Linked DNA regions of Homo sapiens: all the other regions are linked to region 3. Evidence: fine-mapped expression QTL. A gene starts in region 3. Each other region holds a variant in brackets. All regions are shown on one strand. Distances are between the middles of the regions.

Region 1 (2,763 bases), 240 kb before region 3:
CTGTACTCCAGCCTGGGCAATTAGAGCATAACTCCATCTCAAAAAAAAAAAAAAAAGTTAATTCCCACATTCCAGTATGGCCGTTAGACCTTTCAAACAGGGCTTCTGCCCAGCCCCACCTCTGAGCGGATCCCTGCTCTGGAGTGACTTCTGCAACATTTTCTAAGTCTCTGATGCTTGGAACCAGCTGGGGCCAGCAGGGCTTCCCAGTGAGACACCTCAAGTCCGAATGAAGATCCATGTGAGCCACAATTTCTATTTCTTTTCTTCAGAAGAAGAAAGCACAGTCAGCCGAACGCTGTGGCTCATGCCTGTAATCCTAGCACTTTGGGAGGCCAAGGTGGGCGAATTGCCTGAGCTTAGGCATTCAAGAACAGCCTGGGCAACATGGCAAAACCCCATCTCTACTAAAAATACAAAAATTAGTAGGACATGGTAGCCCATGCCCATAGTCCCAGCTACTTGGGAGGCTGAGACAAGGGAATCACTTGAACCTGGGAACCTGAGGTTGCAGTGAGCCGAGATCATGCCACCACACTCCAGCCTGGGTGAGAAAGTGAGACCCTGTCTCAATTAAAAAAAAAAAAAAAAGAAGAAGAAGAAGAAGTAGAAGAAGAAAGCACAGGATTTTTCTCTTGGAGCATAGAAGGTCTTTCTAGGTATGACATAACACATAACCCATAAAAGGAAAGGTCAAGATTTTGACAATATAAAATAAAAATTCCACATTACAAAACCCACCATAAGCAAAATGCAAAAGACAGAAAATCAAACTGGAAAAAAATTAACACTCTCATTAGTGACAAATTTATCTTGTTGAAAGAAAAACTTCAGCCAAATTAAATTTAAAAGAGTTTAATTGAGCAATGAACGATTCATGAATCAGGCAGCCCCTAGAATCACAGCAGATTCAGAGAGACTCCAGCGGTTCCTCATGGTCAGAACAGATTTATAAATAAAAAAAGTAAAGTAATATACAAAAACCAGAAGTCGGCTCACGTAGTGAGCTCACTGCCTGTAATCCCAGCACTTTGGGAGGCCAAGGCGGTCGGATCACGAGGTCAGGAGATCGAGACCATCC[C/T]GACTAACACGGTGAAACCCCGTCTCTACTAAAAATACAAAAAATTAGCCGGGCATGGTGGCGGGCACCTTTAGTCCCAGCTACTCGGGAGGCTGAGGCAGGAGAATGGCATGAACCTGGGTGGTAGAGTTTGCAGTGAGCCAAGATCGCGCCACTGCACTCCAGCCTGGGGAACAGACTGAGACTCTGTCTCAAAAAAAAAAAAAAAAAAAAAGTGAGGTACAGAAACAGCTGGATGGGTTACAGGTTGGCCTTTGCCTTATTTGAACACAGTTTGAACACTCAGCAGTCTGTGAGTGGTTGAAGTATGGCTGCTGGGATTGGCCAAGACACAGCTATCATTACAGGTGTATAGTCTTAAATTAGGTTTTCAATCTTGTCTGCCTATTAAGCTATGTTACGATTTGTCTACAAGGACTCAAATATAGAAGTATGGAGTCCTTCTCAGGCCATATTTAGTTTGCTTTAACAATCTAAAAGCTAAGACTGAGGTGTCGGAGAAGCCAAGAGAAGAAAGTGTCAAAGATAATGAGAACAATCAAATGCATCCCATTCTGCTGAGAGGTCGAGAAGACAGAGACTGAAAAGGGCCCCTTAGATATGTTTATGTGGAGGTCACGAGGTGCCTTAGCCATTTTAATAGATTCGTGGTGGTCAAAATGCAAGGAAATGGGAATAGCATGTGCAGGACGTTCTTTTGAGATATGTTCTGTTAAACAGAGCAGAGAAACACCGATAGTGAAGGATACTGGGTTAGGTCTAGAAAGAAGCTTGCATTTGTTTTGTGTTGATTTACCTCATTTTGACTTTTAAAGATAGAATCTTGATTGGATTTTCAAATTGAGCAGGAGAGGTTGAAAATGTCAGAAAGAAAGAGTATGGCTAAGACTGTCTTTGTCCTCTAATAGCCATTCTCCCATCTTCTATGGTAGTACAGTCTGTGAATTTCAGCAGAGTAAATGACCTCCTGGAACAAAAATGACATTTCTTCACCTCCCTTGCAGTAGAATAATGTGTTCAAGTTCTAGCCATGGAAATAAGGGTAAAAATGTCTTGTGCAACTTCTAGGAAGTGTCCTTAAAGGGAAGGGCTCTGTTCTTTTTCCTGCTGGCAAGAGTGTAGAGATGATGGCTGGAGCATGAGCCACAAGGTGAAAGCCACATTTTGGGGATGGTGAGCAAGATCAAAGCAGCCTGGTTTCCTGCTCATCATATCGTTGTCATGCAAGTCCTGGATGGGCTATGTCTATGTGAGGGAGGAATAAATGCCGACCTCCTTTAAAGCTGCTGTTATTTTCAGTTTTTTGTCACTGATGACATAACTTAATATTAACTAGGAGAGGGCCAGGTGAGGTGGCTCACGCCTGTAATCTCAGCACTTTGGGAGGCCGAGGCAGGTGGATCACCTGAGGTCAGGAGTTTGAGACCAGTCTGGCCAATATGGTGAAACCCCATCTCTACTAAAAATACAAAAATCAGCCAGGCGTAGTGGTGCGTGCCTGTAGTCCCAGCTACTCAGAAGGCTGAGGCAGGAGAATCGCTTGAGCCTGGGTGGCAGAGGTTGCAGTGAGCCGAGATTATGGCACTGTACTCCAGCCTGGGTGACAGAGCGAAACTCCATCTCAAAAAAAAAAAAAAAAAAAAAAATTAACTAAGAGAAGGGGAATAGCTAATATAATCAGA
Region 2 (2,763 bases), 180 kb before region 3:
CTCCAAAATATATCATGGTGATTCCTCACCACCTCTGCTGCTATCATCCTAGTCCAAGCGGTCATCACCTCTAATTTGGACAACTGCACGGATTGCTAGCTGGATTCCTTGCTTACATGCTTGTACTTTTATAACTTATGTTCTGCAAAAAGTCAGAGTGATCTTTTATAAAAAATGAGTTAGAATATATCACAGCCCTGCTCAAGACTTTCTGATGACTCCCTTTTATGGTTGAAAACCCTTACCAGGTCTAGGTAACCTGGCCACTGCCGTCCCTGCCCTTTCAAGTCACCCACCTGCTCTTTCTCTGTGTTCCAGCCTCACCAGGCTTCCTTCTTGATTCCTTGAAGTATGTGCTGCTCACCCTCCCTAAAATGCTTTTCCTCCAGCACATCGTGTGGTTAATTCCTTCTCATCACTGAAGTCTCAGCTCAAAAATCATTTCTTCAGAAGACAGCCCTCATTCTCCTCACCTCTATCCCACTATCCTGTCTTATTTTCTTTACAACCCTTAATATTACCTAAAATTATTCTCTTTCTTCCTTTCTCTTTCTTATTGTCCTCTCTCACTTTAGCAGAGCCTGTCAGGGCAGGCATCTTGTCTGCCATGTTGACTACTGTATCTCAGTGCCTAGGACAATGCCCACTTCTTATCAGATGCTCAACAAATATTTGTTGAGTAAATACCTAGTGTTCTTGCTGCTACCACAAGTTCTCTTATTAGCCGTGTACTGAGTATACAGCGGTGACTGACATATCCACCTCCCCTGGGAGGTTTCCCACTGAAATTACCCTGCTCAGGAACCATATTTATTTTATTTTATTTATTTGTTTTTTGAGACAGGGTCTCAATCTGTCACCCAGGCTGGATTGCAGAGGCACAGTCACGGTTCACTGCAATCTCTGCCTCCCACACTCGAGCAATCCTCCCACCTCAGCCTCCTGAACAGCTGGGACTACTGGTGCATGCCACCACACCTGGCTAATTTTTTGTATTTTTAGTAGAGATGAGATTTCACCATGTTGCCCAGGCTGGTCTAGAACTCCTGGACTCAAGTGATCTGCCCCCCTCGGCCTCCCACAGTGTTGGGATTATAGGCATGAGCCACCACACCTGGCCCAGGGGCCCTATTTTGAGAACCAGAGCTATGCTGCTTTGTGCAATGAAGTAAATGATGAGTTCCCAACCCATTAATGTAGCCAATACATAGGCTGGCAATCAACCACTTTAATGTGGTGTGGTCTGAAAATATGGACTGGGCCATTCAGATTCCCTCTCTGGAAATCTTACTAGGAAAAAAGAGCAACTGAGGGAGGTATCAGTTGGAACTGAGACTGAAAGATCATGAAGTAGTGAGAAAGTGGAGAGAACATGATGGTCCACGTGCAAGCCAAAGTTGTGAAGAAGCAAAGAGAATAGATAAAAACCTATGAGGGGCCAGGCGTGGTTGCTCATGCCTGTAATCCTAGCACTTTGGGAGGCCGAGGCAGGCGGATCACCTGAGGTCAGGAGTTCGAGACCAG[C/A]CTGGCCAACATGGTGAAACCCTATCTCTACTAAAAATACAAAAATTAAATTAATAAATAGTACATTGTAACCCAAAAAAAAATACAAAAATTAGCCAGGCATGGTGGTATGCGCCTGTAGTCCCAGCTATACGGGAGGCTGAGGCAGGAGGATCGCTTGAACCCAGGAGGCAGAGGTTGCAGTGAACCAAGATTGCGCCATTGCACTCCAGCCTGGGTGACAGAGTGAGACTCCATCTCAAACAACAGCAACAACAACAACAAAACTGTGAGTCAGAGAAAGAAAAATTTACCAGTGAGAGGGGAGGGACTGCCCCATGCTGTAGCTGGGTCATGTTGGTGATTTTACCAAAATAGTGCATTCTCACCTCAGCTAGGTATATATATATATATATGGGTTTTTTGTTTGTTTGTTTGTTTTGTTTTGTTTTTTGTTTTTGTTTTTTTTGAGACATGGTCTCACTCTGTCACCCAGGCTGGAGTGCAGTAGCACGATCACGGCTCACTGAAGCCTCGACCTTCCGGGCTCAGCCTCTGAAGTAGATGGGACTATAGGAACGCACTACCACACCCGACTAATTTTTATATTTTTTGTAGAGATGAGGTTTTGCCATGTTGCCCAGGCTGGTCTCAAACTCCTAGGCTCAAGCCGCTCAAGCAATCCACCTGCCTCAGCCTCCCAAAGTGCTAGGATTACAGGCGTGACTCACCACGCCCGGCCTGGGTATTTTTAATATAAGGTGTTCTCTCCATGCTGTGGGCTCTCTCAACAGCTATGGAACATACATGACATTTTTCATTTAGGAGTTCAGTAGCATTCTCATTATGGCCACATGGCCTTGAAGTTCTGTGATCTCTAGATGGCTTGGTGTCTCTCTCTATTTCTGTGTGTTTCCTGTGGCCCTGTTTTCACAATCTCTCACTCACTCTCTCTCTCTTTCTGCATTTCACTTTGTCTGTGTGTCCTCCCAATGGGCTCCCACCATGGCTGTGTGTTCTCTTGATACTTATGTGTTCTTACTATGGCGTATGTTCTCAGTTTAATGTTGTATTTTCACTACAGGTGTGTGTTTCATCTTAGCTGTATGTTCTTATTATAGTGTGCAATCCTGCTGTGGAGATTTGCTCTCCATGTGGTGATGTATTTTTCAACAGAACTTGATAGTCATAACTGGTCAAATTTGTCCAAGGGTCAGGAGCCAAAAAAATTTTGTGTGAAAAAAATATTTTCACGATTTT
Region 3 (2,724 bases):
AATAAATAACGGAGTTGGTCGTAACAAAAGACGGCAAGAAGGAGATTAATCCAAAGGCTCTTTGGGAGTTAGAACTGGCAGCCTTAGTATGTGAACAAAAGAGGAAATTAGAATGGATTTGAGGGTAGGGGAAGGAACGTAAGTTGTACTAGATGCCTGGTAGCTAGTAAGTAGCAGAGTCAGAATTTGAGTTCGTATTTGATCATAAAGCCTGTATACTGAACCACATCCCCTTTTAGGTTTCTAGCCTGAGGAACACAAGTGTCTTGGCAGGCTCTGACATGATCGCCATCCCATGCCCAACCCAGCCCTGTGTCCCTCCACCGCATCCCACATCCTGTCCTCAGTCCCAAAAGGCACCGTATTGAGGAGAGCTGGGATCCGACACAGCCTGCACCAGCTCCGAGAGTCTTTCCACATTCTGCTGTCTCAGGGCAAAGGTGAGACTCAGCTCTTCCTCAGGGTCCGCACGGCCCAGGGACACCCAGCCTGGGGGCAGCCTGTAGGGTCAGGGGTCAGGGACATGGCTTTGGTTAGGGTGGAGATGGAAAATATTGGTCATGGAAGGTTCCAGATTAGGAGCTGAGACCTTGGGGAGGATCCTAGGAGCAGATACAGATCACATGAGGTGAATGATAGGGGACTGAGGCTAGGAACATAGAGATGAAGCTATGGAGTGCGTACTAGGAGCTGGCACGGGGGTGAGAGAAGCTAGGACCAGGACAGTGGGAGGCAGAACAGGGTATGGGGAAGGGGGCAGTCTGTGCTAAGTCAACTCACGTCCTCCGCTGGTCGGGCTCCGGGCTGTAACTGCATTTGCCAGAGAGGATGAGGGCAAAGAGCCCTAGGAGGCTGTAGGGGCAGCAGGTGGGTTTCAGTGGGAGCTACGTTGTCCTTGTGTTCCCACCCTCCCAATGTGTGCTCCCTCCAACGTGATCCCTTTCTCCCGAGCCCTCTCAATTTCTCACCAGGCTTGGAGTCCCATTCTGCCCTTCCGCGGATCTGCTGTCATGTGACGGATCACATGAGCTCTATATTCCACCACCACTACCCCTCTGCCTAGTAACTAGTGACGGTACTGGCTCCTCCCTTGCATGGGTGGTCCCAAATGCTAGGCAAGGGTGGGGCCGCCACCCGGATTCTCCCCTCTGGCCAGTCAAGCACTGAGTAAGCCCAGGGCTCCCCACCTGCGTCCTGAGCCTGGTCCCCTGGGAATCACCACAAGTGAGTGGGCTGTAGAGACCCACAGACTGGGGTTCTTCCTAGCTGTATGACATCAGCAAAATAACCTCTCAGAGCCTAGGTTTCTGCATTTACAATATGGAGACTTATATAAAAGTGATCTGCCTCGAAAGATTGCAGTGAAAAAATTTTTTTCCTCTTTTATCCTTTATGTCCCCATATTATCAATTTTGTCTTCATTTTACGACTACATTTATGAACAGAGTAAAGCTTTTGCAAGACCAGGATCCTTTTATTCAAATCAGTTTCCAGTTTTAAGTAGCTTCCCAGGAGATCTACAATCAGCTGGGGTCCTGTTTATTATGGGTTCCCAAGGTTTTCAAGGAAATCAACTTTGTTCTAAGGGCCATGGAGGAATCTTGCATCTTGTTTAGTGGGCTCAGGTGGATAAAATGGAAACGGACCTTTGCTTCTTCTAATGGTAACTCAAAGCCCACAAGGAGGTCTGAGTTTACTACTTCCAACTGGGGTCATTACAAGAGGATTTTCAATGAGAGTTAAAACCCTGAGGATTCAATTCCCTTCCAGTCTTCCTTTTTTTCCCCCCAAAAATCCATATGGAAGATGGTGTCAGCAGTGTCATTTTAACTTCCAAAACCATTAATCCAATACTCATGTGAAATCCCTTGTTCTGACCTCAATACTTTTTAGATAGATCCCTCTACTCCTGCTGTTGTCCTACAGGCCACTGGCTTCCATTAACCTATAGATTATATTCCCACACTGAAGATTATGGCACTTCACCTTTCTGTCCATCCCAACTCCTGCGATCATTTGACCTAGATGATCAAAATATCTAGGTAAAAGACCCATTCAACACCCTAACCTTCCATTTCTTCATCTCATTAAACCCAGTGAGCATTACCTTCACTTCACTTAAGCAAACCAGTCCCATGGCTGCATTGGGCTTGCTATCTCTCAAAACTGCTCTACCTTTGAAATTATAATTATAGAATGCTTTCTTAGACTATAACCTTCTGTTTTTTCAAGCCATTGTTTTTCCTCACTCCTATTAATCTGACTTCTCTCTGTCCATTGATCCCTCCAGTTTCCCACTAAGCGTGGATCCTAGAGCTGTATTTACTAGCATCATGCTCAGAAACATTTCCCTTTGACCACAACTTTTTTTTTTTTTTCTAATTTCCTCAATCTCATGAACTTCTCAAACACTGGCCAATTGCCTTTCCCTCACAGCCTGGCTCCCCAAAGAACAGGCAACACCAGTGGTTCCCAAATCCCTTTGTATGACTGTGAAAATTTACACTGAGATTAAGCAAGGCAGCCACCTGCAGAGAGCCTGACATGACAAAGGCTCAACAAATTGAGCTCTTTTTACAATGTGGATTTTTAGTGGCCCCCAAGAAGAACAAATAAACCACTTGACTGCTCTTGTACCCACCCCAACTTATTTTAAGAACTTCGGGCCCAGAGCTGCTCATCCCCAAGATCCCCTCTCCCACCCAACTGATCCCTCTCAAGGCC

Which allele goes with the higher level. Alleles are on the strand shown, and positions count from the first base shown. SD is a standard deviation of normalised expression in the study named. Not every link is listed here.
For the expression in lymphoblastoid cells of the gene that starts at base 1,007 in region 3, allele C in region 1 goes with a lower level than allele T (small effect, 0.26 SD a copy in GTEx).

What was found. PIP is the estimated chance that this variant, and not a neighbour inherited with it, causes the effect. A credible set is the group of variants that fine-mapping cannot tell apart.
Region 1: its variant is the best candidate, but not a certain one, in a credible set for the expression of TPP1 in lymphoblastoid cells (GTEx, PIP 0.65).
Region 2: its variant is the best candidate, but not a certain one, in a credible set for the expression of TPP1 in whole blood (INTERVAL, PIP 0.65).

Annotation. Positions count from the first base shown.
Region 1 is chr11:6,374,276-6,377,038 of GRCh38, forward strand. No RefSeq gene overlaps it. Among named protein-coding and RNA genes, the nearest start is that of SMPD1, 15 kb to the right of the region's middle. The variant C/T (reference allele first, on the strand shown) is at 1,082.
Region 2 is chr11:6,433,511-6,436,273 of GRCh38, forward strand. The region is part of intron 7 of HPX (hemopexin); the gene reads right to left. Among named protein-coding and RNA genes, the nearest start is that of HPX, 6.1 kb to the right of the region's middle. RefSeq lists an enhancer at 825-874 and a silencer at 2,340-2,539. The variant C/A (reference allele first, on the strand shown) is at 1,525.
Region 3 is chr11:6,618,416-6,621,139 of GRCh38, forward strand. TPP1 (tripeptidyl peptidase 1) reads right to left here and starts at 1,007. Exons shown (of 13, transcript NM_000391.4): 1 at 969-1,007; 2 at 781-852; 3 at 361-500. The coding sequence starts at 985. RefSeq lists a silencer at 728-777 and an enhancer at 1,328-1,377.